2 linked regions of the Homo sapiens genome follow. The protein of the gene in region 1 interacts with the protein of each later gene in a pairwise test. Each region holds a gene or a part of one and is shown in the gene's direction. Other genes may lie near its edges.

What was found.
Region 2: the proteins of LMO2 (region 1) and TRIB3 interact in binary tests that used the Homo sapiens proteins (3 or more experiments, as listed by UniProt).

The regions. Positions count from the first base shown.
Region 1 is NC_000011.10:33,882,077-33,885,576, reverse strand, and holds part of LMO2 (rhombotin-2), read left to right. Parts: intron 1-3,300; exon of another isoform or gene 3,301-3,393; intron 3,394-3,500. UniProt on the Homo sapiens protein: Acts with TAL1/SCL to regulate red blood cell development. Also acts with LDB1 to maintain erythroid precursors in an immature state.
Region 2 is NC_000020.11:387,260-390,759, forward strand, and holds part of TRIB3 (tribbles homolog 3), read left to right. Parts: intron 1-751; coding exon 752-1,042; intron 1,043-3,500. UniProt on the Homo sapiens protein: Inactive protein kinase which acts as a regulator of the integrated stress response (ISR), a process for adaptation to various stress. Inhibits the transcriptional activity of DDIT3/CHOP and is involved in DDIT3/CHOP-dependent cell death during ER stress.

The DNA.
Region 1 (3,500 bases):
CTACTGCCTAAGGCTATCTCCGGGCTAACTTGTATGTACACAGAGATAAAGCCACATCCCAGTGGCTGGACCTCATGCAATGTTGGGCCTCCTATCTGCCCCCATGAGCAGGCCACTCCCTTATTTGCACCACAAAACCACCAACACCAAACACTTCTGGTCTAGGCTCCTAGGTCTTGCCCTGTCCTATGTTGGCTCAGATGTTATCCAGTCTGGTCCCCGGCTCATGAGTCCAGATCATACATCTATCCAAATGTATAAATACATGCCTATGCTTGTATCTTCCTAGGCCCACACAGCACAACTAGTGTCATGGCCCACCCCAGATATTAAAGGAACACAAGAGATTGGAAGCCCCAGAGGGAACCTGCTTCACCTGTTCCACTCCTAGATAACTTCTTCCTGACGTCCCAAATACCTAAACTCACCTGCACACTGCTAAGTCTGACAACCCCCTTCACATTTTTCTGACTGTTCTGCAATTTAACCCTGCTGGTCACAGTCCCCAGTCAGAGGTGATGGGCAGTCTTCCTACCCATTGTCCTGGGTATAAGCATGACTTGGGGCCAGAAGAGTGGGACTAAGGTCTTACAATATGATCACACCAGGAAAACTAGCAGATACTTCAGAGAAAGATCCGAGGTCCTATCAGCCCACGTAACACAAAAAACAGCAGCACTGGAAGCTTTCACTGAAGGGCAAAAACCCCTAACTGCCAGGGTGGCAGATAAGAGACTAGCTCCAGATGATATGCCAGCTTCCCAGAAGGAGTATATGCTCTCAGAGGGCATAGTGTATCCTGCTGGACGTGGATAAATATTGCAAGGCAAAGTAATCCAAATAGCCCAATGGATGTACCACCAAACAGAAACCAAATTCTACATGTGGTACTCTGAACTCCCTAGGACTTGGATGTCCCCTGTAGCCTGGGGTGACCTTGTTTTAGGAGCCCTCCTGCCCACAAGTAGACTTACATACTGCACTGGCTATGTAAAATTGGTACAGCCTATATACAAGTATATTAGCTCTTTGGATGGTGAACCAAATGTTAGGGAGTGAATTTTGAAGAAATTGAGTTGAGTGCAAAAAGTTGCTCCCAGCAAAATGTCATTTGTCCAAATAGTTAACACCCACTGGGGCAGAAACCATCAGGGCACCCCACCCCTCACCACCCACTCAGCCCCACTCACCTCTGCAGCACCTAGTAATCATATGCAAGAAAACTCACCCTTACTCTTTTTGATTGACCACCCCCAGCCTGACCCCCAATGGAGCAGATCACTCAAAATTAATCTTCCCCCACTACCTCCTCTCGGCATTATTCAACAGGTGGGCCCCTGTCCTATATCTACGTAGGTCCCCAGCACCAGGCTCTTTCTCCTCCCCAGAAGTCAGGGAGTCCTCTTCTCAGTGGGGCCCTCAACCAGTGGCTTCCCTCGCTGCCTATGCCTGCATAAGTAATACACCTTTGAATTGCCTGTGATCACCGGGTCAGGTGTGGTGCGTTTTGGCATCCAAGGCTTTTAAATGGGAGAGAACAGCAGATCTGGTTCCTTTCACTGGAATATTGTTATGGTCCAATTCTGCAACCAGCTGACTTCATTACTACCTGTGAACTGCACCTCCAGCTCCTCCAACTGACCCCATACCCAGACCCTTACTTGGGCTGTTTCCTACCAGACACACCTGCTCTGTTAAGAAAACCATTATTGAAATCACCGGCTGTTAATTCCTACTCAGTCCTTAGTAGCCCTGTGAGCTGGAGCAAGTTCTGTAGGCTTTCTGTGACTCAGTTTCATCACCCATAAAATTATGATTACAATACTTACTTCATTAGGGTGTTGCAAGGGCCTAAAAAACACTCTATGTATAGCTCAAAGTACAAGCCTGACAACAAAGGAAGTTTCCAGATAATCGCTCATCAAGGGGCAACTCGATTTTCTGCTTCCTCCAGAAAGCCTTCCATGCTGATGTCCATCCACTCTGATCTCTCCCTAATCCAATCTGATTGCAGTTTTGATCAGCACCTCACTGTTGACCATGGATTTCTTCTCCATTACAAATGTGTTCATTTTGACTTCCAAGTAAGAGATAAAGGTCTTGGAAAGAAGTGATTGCATTTTACCTGGCTCTCCTACTGACTTTCTGTGTCATCTTCCTCTTAATTTTGGGGAGACTGAGTTTCTTTCTCTGGGATGGCAAATACATGGCCTATGTGCCAACACTTTCCCATCCTGAAACCTCAGGACACACACCAGTGTTCTCATCTTCTCTCCAGAACCTGGGTCCAGACTCACAATTCTTCTTAACACAATACTTTGGACAGTGTCTACTAACTTATCTAATAAATATGTTTTGAGTACTTCGTAGGTACCATCCCCCTTGGTCAGTTTCTAGAAGTTAAAACGTTGGACATCTTGTATCTGCACTTATGGAACTCATCCCTTAGTGGAGAAGAAAGACAATATGCAAATACACAAATAAGAAAATATCAAGTAGTGACAAATATAATGATGAAAATTAAATAACGGTGTGTTAGTGCCTGGGGAGGAGGCTATTTTTTAGATCAGGTATCCAGGGAAAGGCCTTCTGAGGTTTCTCCCTTGATCTGGGAGATTGGGTGTGGGCCTAAGAATATGTATTCCTAACATGCAAACGTAGGAAATTTGGGAAACACTGGCATAGTGAATGAGGTGAGGGCATAGTCAGAAGACCTAGGTCTAAATTCCGTCTCCTACATTTATGCAGCTGTATGACCCTGGGAAAGTTATTGAAATTTCTCTCTCACTTTCCTCCTCTGTAAAATTGGAATAATATTACTGATCTCAGGAGGTTTCTTATCAGGATTGAATAAGATCAAGTATTTAAAATGCCTGGCACATAATAAGTGCTCAATAAAAGGTAGGCATTGTTTGCCACAATTAGGTCTATCTATTTATAACCGTAATCTTTTGTTTGAATCACTCAAGAGACAAATCCAATAAATGCCGCTAGGTAATACGGTGTCTGCGTGTTGGCTTTTGCCTCATGAAGCTCTTCCTCTTGAAAAATAAATTTTCAAAAGACATTCCTGTGAGCAAGAATGCCCGAGTCTAAGGAACAAGGGTCATCCAGTTCTCTAGTTTAGGCATGTTTGAGATTTGAAAGGGCTTTGGCCTAATTTCCTCTCCTATCAAATGGGCACCAGGCTACCTGCCCTTTTTCACTCATGGGGGATTTCTGAGACTCAGAGGGATAAGAGATTTGCAAAGCGTGAGACACAAACAGTTGCAGATACAGACAGAACACTTGCTTTCTCAGACCGGCAGGTGCATACAATGGCAAGGCCACCTGATACACCAGTCCTGTTCATTTGGAAAAGGGACAACTCCTTCACATTCACAAGCTGGGCTGGTAAGTGAAGAATAAGAAGAAAAAAAAAAGAAGTCGGCAGGAAGCAGCCTCTTCAACCAGCAAAGAAACCGTTAGAATCCATCCCTGCGCCCTGATGCCAAAGTTCC
Region 2 (3,500 bases), on another chromosome or scaffold:
AGCTACTTGGGAGGCTGAGGTGGAAGAATCACCTGAACCCTGAGGTCGAGGCTGCAAGTGAACTGTAATAGTAAGAGTCTCCTCCTAATCTTGTGCATCCTTTCAGAGAGAGAGATGATAGATATTCAAACAAATACATACATATATATAACATATTTATATATATTCTTTTTAACATAAAAGTATAGCCAGGTGTGGTGGTTCACTACTAGAGTCCCAGCTACTTAGGAAGCTGAGGTGGGAGGTTCACTTGAGGCCACGAGTTTGAGACCAGCGTGGGCAACATCTCTTGGGGAAAAAAAAAAAAAAACCCACCATAAAAGCATTCTATAACACGTAATTCTGTGTTTGTCTTTCTTCTCTTAATACATCTTGGAGATCAGTACGCATCAGTATATAGAGAGCTTCCTTGTCCTTTTTCAGGGCTGTGTAGTATTCTGCTGTATGGCTATACCATGATGTTTTCACTAGCTTTCTACTGCCTGACATTTGGGATATTTCCTGCTTTTGCTATTGGACACAAGGCTCTGATGAACAGCCTTTACTATATTTAATTTTTTTGTGAGAAGTTTAACTGGAAGATAAATTCCCAGAAGTGGGGCACCCAGTTAAGGATATGTGACTTTGTCATTTTAACACACACTGCCAGATCACCCCCTATAAATGTTGTGCCACGTATCCTCCCACCAGCAGGGGAAAGGAGGGGCCACCAAGCAGTCTCACTTTAGTGCTTTTCTCTCCTTTTTACCAGATGCGAGCCACCCCTCTGGCTGCTCCTGCGGGTTCCCTGTCCAGGAAGAAGCGGTTGGAGTTGGATGACAACTTAGATACCGAGCGTCCCGTCCAGAAACGAGCTCGAAGTGGGCCCCAGCCCAGACTGCCCCCCTGCCTGTTGCCCCTGAGCCCACCTACTGCTCCAGATCGTGCAACTGCTGTGGCCACTGCCTCCCGTCTTGGGCCCTATGTCCTCCTGGAGCCCGAGGAGGGCGGGCGGGCCTACCAGGCCCTGCACTGCCCTACAGGCACTGAGTATACCTGCAAGGTACGTGCCCATGGGCGGCTGTCCCCCAGCACCACAGGAGGCCTGGGAAGGAGGCCTCCAAAGGATTGCCAGGGTGCAGAGGGGTCCTTATGTTCATTCATTCTTGTGTTTGTTTAGTGGGGAAGCATCCAGGGAGCCCCTGCTGGACTGATACTAGAGAGGTAAACCAGAGGTCGTCCCAGTCCTGGGGGAGTTCACAGCTTAGGCCCTACAGTGTGATAAATGCTGCAGGGGTAGAACTTAGGGATCATGGGCGCAGAAAAGGCCGAGCAGAAGTTAGCCAGGTAGAAGTGGGAGATGGGAGTTGCAGGCAGGGGGAACAGCTGTTCAAAGGCCTAGAAAAGTGAGGGGATAGCACTTTAGAGAATGAAAAGGACTTCTCTGTGGCCAGAGTGGAGAGGATGTGCAGAAAGGGGCAGGAGATGAAGGTTGGCAGCAGCTGGTCATGAAGGTGTTAACAAGGGGCCTCCACTGGGCTGTGCGGAGCTACTGAAGATGTTTGCACAAGAGAAGGGTAGGGCATGGTAGACATCAAAACTCCTGGGACCTCGGAGGTGATCGAGCCTAACCTGGGGCCATTTTACAGATAGGAAGACTGAGATGAAGACAGGAGAAGGGCCATGCGTGAAGTCACATAGCACTGGGCCTGGCTCCTGGGGTAAACTAAGGGGTAGAAAAGTCTGAGGATTCCTGGCAGAAACCAGGAAATGGACAGGGTCAAGGCCCCTGAGGGTCAGCCCATGCAGGACACTGACAAGTGACAGTCCAAGAAGACAGAGATGAGAATAAAAAGTGTAACAATAGGTATTCACTGTGCACCAGGTACTATGATGATTGCTTAGTGTGCACAATCTCTTTTAATCTTGACACAACCAATGAGGTGGTTTCTATCATTGTGCCCCTTTTATAGATAGAGGACACTGAGACTCAGAAAGCCATGGTTACTTGCCACATGACAGAGCCAGGTGGTATCAGAGCTGGGATTGGGCCCAGGAGGCTGAGCCCAGAGAGTCCTGTGCCCGTGCTAGGATAAGCGTTTCACACAATCAGGGCAGGCTGCCCTGGCAGGCAAGCATAAGGAAGATAAGGGGGACCTGGAAACCCAAGGGAGAGTAGCGGGGGCCTGGGTCCCTTGGGAATGCACAGAGAAGCAGAAGGACTTAAGCCTCCTCCTGGGGCAGCAGCAGAGCTTTGCTCTGTTGACGGAGATGCAGTGAACAGCGGGGCAGATCCAGACAGGGTCCAGCCCCTAGCTTCACCTGGCCTCTTGTGCACAGATCTCCAGCGCCCTTACCAGGTGCCCTAAGGAGCCCAGAACTCTGGGTCCCCTTCCTGCAGCATCACAGGCTCTTTTCCACTCCCGCTGGGGAGGTGAGTCCATGATAAGAGGAATAACCCAAGCAGGCTCAGGAGAGAAGCGCCATGCGTTCACAGGGCCCTGATTCTCAAGAAACATTTGGGAAAATCCACTGGAACATACTCACCCCTATGCCAATGTGCACCATGGGTGCTGAATGGTCATTTCCACACTTCCTCAGCTTTTCTGGTCAGTGTGTAGAAAGATCAAAATCTTGTCTTTGTAAATGATCAACTTATTCATTAATTCAACACAACTTCATTGAGCACCCGTATTTGCCATGTACCATGCTGTGGTTAAAAAACAAAGTTCTGTTCTCATCAAGCTGACGTTCTAGTGGGAGATACAGACACTAAACAAGCGAATAAGTAAAATACGTGTCAGGTGGCCGGGCGCGGTGGCTCACACCTGTAATCCCAGCACTTTGGGAGGCCGAGGTAGGCAGATCACCTGAAGTCAGGAGTTCGAGACTATCCTGGCCAACATGGTGAAACCTTGTTTCTATTAAAAATACAAAAAATTAGCCGGGCATGGTGGCAGGGGCCTGTAATCCCAGCTACTCGAGAGGCTGAGGCAGGAGAATCTCTTGAACCTGGGAGGTGGAGGTTGCAGTGAGCCGAGATCACACCACTGCACTCCAGCCTGGGCAACAAGAGCAAAACTCCGTCTCAAAAAAACAAAAAACAAACAGGAAAACCCTTATTCCAGCATCTTTCTTGGTTCCTTTGCAATGCTTATCAGCATTTGTCAATATTTGGTTTCTGGGCATGTTTGCATGGCCTCCCAGTGGGCACCGGAGAGCAGAGCCCATGGCTGTCAGTCTAGCTGGACATGTGGCTGGCCCGTGCAGGCCCAGGGCCAGCATACTGAATGAATGAAAGCGTGGGTGGGCAAAGAGGACGGGAGCTGTGACGGTGATGAGCATCAGGTGCCTTCTGCATCATCCGCCCTTCCGGATTCCTCCTGCTTTGTGGGTTATTTTTCTGTTTGGGTGACCTGTTACTTTTCAGTTATCCGATGTTTGAGGCCATATAGCGTAGCAGTTAAGAGCACAGACAAAAGGCCGGGTGCAGTGGCTCACACCTGTAATCCCAGCCCTTT